Homo sapiens: one gene and its partner. Changing the gene in region 1 together with any one later gene gives a genetic interaction. Each region holds a gene or a part of one and is shown on either strand. Other genes may lie near its edges.

The links.
Region 2: changes in NPNT (region 1) and FLT3 together harm fitness less than expected from each alone (positive genetic interaction), as found in Homo sapiens cells (one study listed by BioGRID).

Annotation. Positions count from the first base shown.
Region 1 is NC_000004.12:105,936,794-105,940,616, forward strand, and holds part of NPNT (nephronectin isoform B precursor), read left to right. Parts: intron 1-215; coding exon 216-335; intron 336-1,507; coding exon 1,508-1,627; intron 1,628-3,281; coding exon 3,282-3,416; intron 3,417-3,720; coding exon 3,721-3,823. UniProt on the Homo sapiens protein: Functional ligand of integrin alpha-8/beta-1 in kidney development. Regulates the expression of GDNF with integrin alpha-8/beta-1 which is essential for kidney development.
Region 2 is NC_000013.11:28,002,528-28,006,653, forward strand, and holds the end of FLT3 (receptor-type tyrosine-protein kinase FLT3 precursor), read right to left. Parts: intron 1,648-4,126; coding exon 1,525-1,647; 3' UTR 747-1,524; downstream 1-746. UniProt on the Homo sapiens protein: Tyrosine-protein kinase that acts as a cell-surface receptor for the cytokine FLT3LG and regulates differentiation, proliferation and survival of hematopoietic progenitor cells and of dendritic cells.

The DNA of each region.
Region 1 (3,823 bases):
GATCCATAAAGGTCATGGCGACTCCTGGTTGCCCCTAGTGTAACGTACCTTCAAATTAATATTGCATGAACAGGATCTATCTCTTATGTAAATGACAGTTACTGTAGCTTGACCTATTTTTCTCTTTCATTTTTTAATATAGAAAAGAATTTTAGATGGCTTACATTAGTGCTGAGGTTTTGTAATTTTTCTGCTTCAACCCACATTGTTTTCAGATCTAAATGAGTGTGGCCTGAAGCCCCGGCCCTGTAAGCACAGGTGCATGAACACTTACGGCAGCTACAAGTGCTACTGTCTCAACGGATATATGCTCATGCCGGATGGTTCCTGCTCAAGTATGTCAAGAATCTTAACTGTTTTATAAGTGCTTTGGGCTTGTTTCTGTTGTGCTCTGAGAGCTTGCTTTTGTGAAAATGGCCTCCGGGGTTCTCCTAAACAAGATGTGTGCGTGTGTTTATACTTTTGCCTGAGGAATTGAAAATCAAAATAAGAGGCACCATTTTCGATGTATAATACTCTTCTATCACGGGTGCCAATATTAAATTGATTAGGAAATGGTGTTTAGAATAAGAATTACAAAACTAAGTATGTTTTCTAATTTTTTTTTTAAACATGTTTACCCATGTCTTCTATCTGGGCATAGAAGAATGATTCCAGGCTAAAAAAAAAAAAAAAAGAACACTACTGACTATTTAGGGACTGCTCAGACAGAATCCATCAGGTCTGTTTTGTAATTTTAAATCATTCATAAATATTTTCTTCATTTTTATATTTCATTATAAAAGCCTTTAGGCTTTTATAGAATTTTAGACTCTAATAATAGTCTAAGACTTCTAAAAAACAATTTCAAATAAAAAATAAATGAATATGATACCAGAAAAGTAGGATTCATGTTTATAAGGAAGAAATGCATGTTTTCACCATCATTTGGATGTAAAAAATGGACTATGCCCTAAAATTCTCTATAGGCTGACTCCTGAATTGTGGTATTCATATGATATCTGACAATTAATGACTTGATTTTTATTTTTACTGAATTATCATTTAACTGAGTTGCATAAAATAAAGTTAGCTAATTTTATTTAACATTGCATAAGTATAGCATGGAACTTTTTGGAATTAGGTGAATACATGTTTAACATTGTGCAACTCAATGGGAAATCTGCTGTTCCCCTAGAGAAATTTCATGGGCATTTGAGACAGTTACTTGGATGATTAGTTAAGAATAGCGTTTAGCTTGAGTAATCTGGAAAAATACCTCAATTCTTCACTTTCCTTGGCCACTGGAAAAATTTCCAGATAATCTATATATGATAGTTTTATATTTGTCTTTTAATGCTTTCTTTCCTTCCCCCTTTTATTTTCTTTAGATGTTTGATAGTTAAGGCCTCTTTGTCTTCATTGTTGTTCAGTGTCACTGATTTCAGGACAAGTGAAAAAACATAGCTATTTCCATTACAGATTTTGTTTTCTACCTGTCTGAGTCAGCCAGTCACTCTCTTTCCAGGTGCCCTGACCTGCTCCATGGCAAACTGTCAGTATGGCTGTGATGTTGTTAAAGGACAAATACGGTGCCAGTGCCCATCCCCTGGCCTGCAGCTGGCTCCTGATGGGAGGACCTGTGTAGGTGAGTTGTAAAATCAAGCATCTCTGTCAGCAGCCTCTGTAGGATAAAGGGAGAAAGTGAAAGGTGATGGGAATAAGGAAAAAAAAGGCAATTACTTACATCAGATAATTAGCTATCGTTCAGAAGATATCAGATGTCTCAGAAGAGGACATCTCTGTGAATGGATAATGGGAGCGTTGTTTTTTAAAAAATGAGAAATAGGAGGAGGCCTCAGGCAGAGGGAACCCTATGTGCAAAGACACTGCAGTTCAGAGGAGCACAATGTTTAGGGAAACGAGAAGAGCTCAGTATTCCTAGAATGTAAGCGGCAAGGGTGAGCAATGAGTGATGAAGCTGAATAGCTAGATTGTATGTGTTGTTCTTCAGGCCTCAGATTTTTTTCTGGTAAATTAGGAAGGCAGTGTAGGATTGAGAGTCTGGACTTTGGTTTTAAACCTGGCTCTTCCATGTACTAGATATGTAACCTTAGGCAAGAGACTTTGTTGCTTTGAGCTTGGGTCTTCTTATCTTTAAAATGGAAATAATACCACATAGAACTGGTAGGAAGATTGAATGAGATCATGGATGCAAAGAGCTTAGCACAATACCTAGCATGTAATAAGCCTTGAATGAATGGAAGTGTTTGGTGATTAGAGTTATTTACTGAGTAATTTCTATACTCCAGACACTGTGCTGAGTGCTAGGATATATAGCAGTGGCCTAAGCACACAAGATTTTGATCCCCACAAAGCTGACATGCTAATGGGGGAGACAGAAAAGAAACAAATACCCCATAAAATTACAGACAATGCCAAGTGTTAACATGAGGTACTGAGAGAAAAACAGAATGTGTCTATTAGCCTTAAGGTAAGACCTGTATCATTAGCCATGTGAAGAAACAGCCAAGCAGCTGAAGACATTGCAGGGCACTGCGGTGAGAGAGAGGTTGGCCTGTGTGAGGTTTTTCAAGGAAGAAGGTCCATGTAGCTCAAGTACAGGGTGTGAGTATGAGGGGTGGTGGCTGGAGATATAATGGGTGAAGTAGGTGAGGGTGATTTGTTGCAGGGCCTTCAAGGACACAGGGGAGGAATGTGGATTTAATTCAAAGTGCAAGTAGAAATAGTTAAAAGATTTTGAGCACAGTAATGATTTGATTGTATGTTTTAATGGAATCATTTTGACAGTTGGGTTGGATATGCTTTGGAGGGGGTAAGTAACAGCAAAAGGAACTGTTTTGAGGCTTTTGTAACAGTCTAACCCAAGAGATGGTGGCTTCAAATAGGGTAGTGGTGGTGGATTAAGAGAAAAGTAGACAGATTCAAATACTTTTTTTTAGAGGTAGAATTAACTGGACTTGATGATATGGGAGTTAAAGGAAAGAGGGTTGTTTCTAATTCAAGAATGACTCATGTTTCTAGTTTAAGCAACTTGGTAGATACAGGTGCAGTATGTGCTAATATATAGAGTGCAAGAAAATAATAACTTGGCTTAGAAGGCTGGGTTGAAATTTGGATATGTGGAATTTATGTTGCCTGTAGGGACAACCAGCTAGATACCGTTTATGATGAGCCACTATATGCTAGGCAACCATTTGTAGTCAGTTATTTATTTTGAAACCCACTCTGTCTTAACATACCCTTGCTCTTCCTAAAATGCTATTGACTTATGTTTCTAGATGTTGATGAATGTGCTACAGGAAGAGCCTCCTGCCCTAGATTTAGGCAATGTGTCAACACTTTTGGGAGCTACATCTGCAAGTGTCATAAAGGCTTCGATCTCATGTATATTGGAGGCAAATATCAATGTCATGGTAATGAAACCCAACCATTGCTTTGTGTTGTTTCTTCCTAGAGCACTGAAAGGTCTCGTAATTGTGGTGATGGCTGGAATGTCAGGGGCAGGGGAGAGTACTGGCGTTAAGTTAAACCAACAGACATCCAGTTTAACCACTGGTAGTTCTCAGTCTACATGTAGTTTATTTCTTCTGTTTATCTGCCAATATTATGTAGATCATCACATTGCCAAAAAAAATCATTTTTGAAACTGTATATATTTTTTATGTCATCATATTTATCTCCTAAATAAGTCTCTTCTTTTCCTACTTTCTGATGCAGACATAGACGAATGCTCACTTGGTCAGTATCAGTGCAGCAGCTTTGCTCGATGTTATAACATACGTGGGTCCTACAAGTGCAAATGTAAAGAAGGATACCAGGG
Region 2 (4,126 bases), on another chromosome or scaffold:
TGCTATTAGGTCACACTGAGGTGCCAGGCATTGATCTACATGATGTATATGTTTATGTTCTATATTTCTATATTTCTAAGCTACGTATATATTTAATTCATCTAATTATTCCAGCAACTCTATAAAAGAGATGCCATTAGTGTCCCATTTTTCAGAAAAGGAAACTGAGGCTAGAGAAGTTGAGTTACTTGCCCCAATGACACAGCTAAGGCCAGGTGAAAAGAGAATTCCAACCTGGGCTGACCGGTTCCAGATCCCTTGTCCCTCACCACTACATGCAACAGGAGGTGGAGGAGAAAGAAGAGGCAGAATTTGGTGGCACCTGTCGTGTAAGCGGAGGTGGGCGGGGCGGGGGCACAAACCAAGTTCATAAGCCTACAGGATGGAGGGTGCTAAGCTTCAAAGGACAAAGAGGGCTGGTCGCCATGGCTCACACCTGTAATCCCAGCACTTTAGGAGGCTGAGGCAAGAGGACTGTTTGAGGCCAAGAATTTGTGACCAGCCTGCACAGCATAGCAAGACACTATCTCTACAAAAAATTTTAAAAATTAGCTGGGCGTGGTGGCCTGTGCTTGTAGTCCCAGCCACTCAGGAGGCTGAGGTGGGAGGATCGCTTGAGGCCAGGAGTTTCAGGCTGCAGTGAGCTGTGATCTCACCACTCCACTCCAGCCTGGGAGACAGGGTGAGACCCTGTCACTAAAACATTAAATAAACAAACAAATAAATAAAAATAAAATGAAGGGGACTGTGGGGACAAGAGTAACTTTATTGAAAATACTAATCCTCCATGTTACTTCTGACTGGCCCTGAGTCTGGGAAGGCCGCCAAAGTGTCTAGGTGATGTATTACTCTTTATGGTAGAACACCTATTCATTATAAACTTCCCCCAATACAACCCCTGTTGTTGCAGAAATCTTAGGCTGTGACAACCATAGCTGCCTACACATTCCTTGTATCTTGGGGTAAAAGCACACGTGCTCTGGAAGGAATGTGTAGGTGGCTATGGGTGCACAATTTCAGGGGGTTCGTGAACTCCAGTTAAGACTTGCCCTAATTATACCATGTAAATAATTCAATAATGGGCAATTCTGTAGTAGAAATTTTATTCCCACCCATAAAATATATCACTAAATAGCTGAAAAATTTACATATTATTTTAAAACATAGACTTAAAAAATCATATTAGCTTCTCCTTAGCAAAATGCTTTTGTTTTATGTATTTACAAGAATATACTGTACTTCAGGTACACAATTCACTCAAGCCAGCCTGAGAAGGCCTTGGATGCAGATCAATGCTCCAATAAAGTTCATTATCAGCTCCTCCTGCCTTGTGACAGGATGATTTGATTTTACAAAAGTCCCTTTGAAAACAAGAGTAAACGCAGACAGCTTCTAGAGAAAAGTCTGGTGAAGCAGCAGTTGATAATAGATTTTCTTTTAGTGATGAAATTAATCTTGTTTTGGTAATCTACAGCCTGTTAGGGATAGGTGGAGGGATGAAGTCCTTAAAACTAAATTGTTCCTCTACGAATCTTCGACCTGAGCCTGCGGAGAGAGTAGCCCCAAATCCATCTCTCTGCTGAAAGGTCGCCTGTTTTGGTAGGTGTGAGGACATTCCGAAACACGGCCATCCACATTCTGATACATCTGAATGTGGGAAAGAGACAGAACACTGATTACCATCTGATGTAGATGCACATGTTATGCGCCCATATTACAAATTATTTAAATAAAAACAGTTGTTCTATATAGACAATTACTTTTTTGTTTGTTTGTTGTTTGTTTGTTTATTTTTTGAGACAGAGTCTCGCTCTGTTGCCCAGACTGGAGTGCAGTGGTACAACCATAGTTCACCGTGGCCTTGATGTTCTGGGTTTGAGCAATCCTCCCACCTTAACCTCCTGAGTAGCTGGGACCACAAGCAGGCTCCACCACACCCTGCTAATTTTTTTATTTTTTGTAAAGACAAAGTCTCACTATGTTGTCCAGGGTGGTCTCAAACTCCTGGGCTCAAGTGATCCCACACCACCCCGGCCTCCCAAAGTGCTGCGATTACAGGTGTGAGCCACTACGCCCGGCCTAGACATCACTTTTAAAATGTTTAAACTGATATATAATAGATGTACATATTTTCAGGAAACGTGTAGACAAGTACTTTTATTATGCATAGGTCTCAGAGGATATTCTATATAACTAAAAAAGCAATTTTGGTCCTTTTATTAATGGAGAAATCAAATCATAGTCAAATATTTTATTTCATTATTGAGTCTACTCTCAGATATAAAATGTCACCCTAGAAATCCTAAAACCATGCAGAAAAATCATAAAAGAGAAAGGCCACAAAAGGAAATCTGTTCATTATGGAGTTAATACAAGGGACTGATTCTTGAGTTTTCCCTTGGAGTTTCACGACTTTTAAATATTTTTTTCTGAAATGAAGAGATTTACTTTCCTTTCCCAAATATGAAGTTAACATGCATTCATATAGATAATTTGAGAAATACAGAAAGAGACGTAGAAGGCCGGGCGCAGTGGCTCATGCCTGTAATCCCAGCACTTTGGGATGCCGAGGCGGGCGGATCACCTGGGGTTGGGAGTTCAGGACCAGCCTAGCCAACGTGGAGAAACCCTGTCTCTACTAAAAATACAAAACTAGCCGGGCATGGCGGCGCGCGCCTGCAGTCCCAGCTACTTGGGAGGCTAAGGCAGGAGAATTGCTTGAACCTGGGAGGTGGAGGCTGCAGTGAGCCTAGATTGTGCCACTGCACTCCAGCCTGGGTGACAGAGCAAGACTCCATCTCAAAAAAAAGAAAAAAGGCTACAAGTCATGACAAGTACCCGCCATTATAGACAGCTTGCTATGCACACACAATTTTGTGTCTGTGGGCTCAGGCTATATATTCTATTTTGGAACCTTATTTTGAATTATCAATATATTGTTATTATACTGCTCATATGTTGCCTGTGTCACATATTTACATTATTCACTAAGGATGGCCACATATTTTTTTTTCACGGCAGCCTAGAGTTCCATAGTACTGATGCATCATAATTAACCTTTTGACCAACTGGTTATACGAAACAAACTGAAAAGTGCACACTCAATCTAGTCTGACGTTGGGATAAGCAGAAGTGGAATTGCTGGATCAAAAAGGATGCACACTTGAACTGTGATACACAAGGCCAGGCTGCCCTGCAGAAAGGTTGTATTTATTTCTACTCCTATCAACGGTGCCTGGAAACTATATTTTCCAGAGCCTTCTGAACAATGGGTATGTCAGCCTCCCACATCTCTTCTCTTTTGCTGAGCAAGAAGTTCTATCTCCTTAACTATATATGTTTCACTATCTGCAAAGTTGGGCCTTTTTCCTATACTTTATGTCCATTTGTTTTCATTTTGAATAGCCTGCCTATTTCCTTTGCCTTTTATGTATATAAAAGGCTATACAGGCTGGGTGTACTGGCTCAACTCTGTAATCCTAGCACTTTGGGAGGCCGGGGCGGGAGGATTGCTTGAGGCCAAGAGTTCAAGACCAAACTAACCAACATAGCAAGATCCTGTCTCTAAAAGAAATAAGTTTTTAAAAGGTGATACATTTTTATTATTATTTGTTTATAAGAACTTTATGATTTAGGAATCATGCATTCTATTTAAATTTTATAGATTTGTTCCGTTCCCACAGCCCTTGTTACTGTCTACTTCTTTTTCTTTGTTTTTGACAGTTTTAATGTGAACTGTCCAGACTGCCTCCTACACTTCACTTTTCTTTCTAGAAAATTGTGTGTGTGTGTGTGTGTGTGTGTGTGTGTGTGTATCCTTTGACCCAAAATATATCCATTGTGAACCAGGTGTTGCACAATGACAGCTTTGCTTGTACCCTGAAGGATGAACAGTAACTACTCATGCGTGCCTTTTGTGAAGTAGACATAGCAGTTAGTTAGCATTTGTTGAACCTGTTGAATCCAAATGTACATCTCTACCACTGAATTTCTAACCACCTCATGAAGTTTGTGTAGCACAAATACCAATAACACTTCCAATCTTCCACCTGAATTAACTAACATGTGCTCTTCATCCAGTCTCACTGTCTAGAAGTTTCTAGAACCATCTCTGACAATCTCTCTC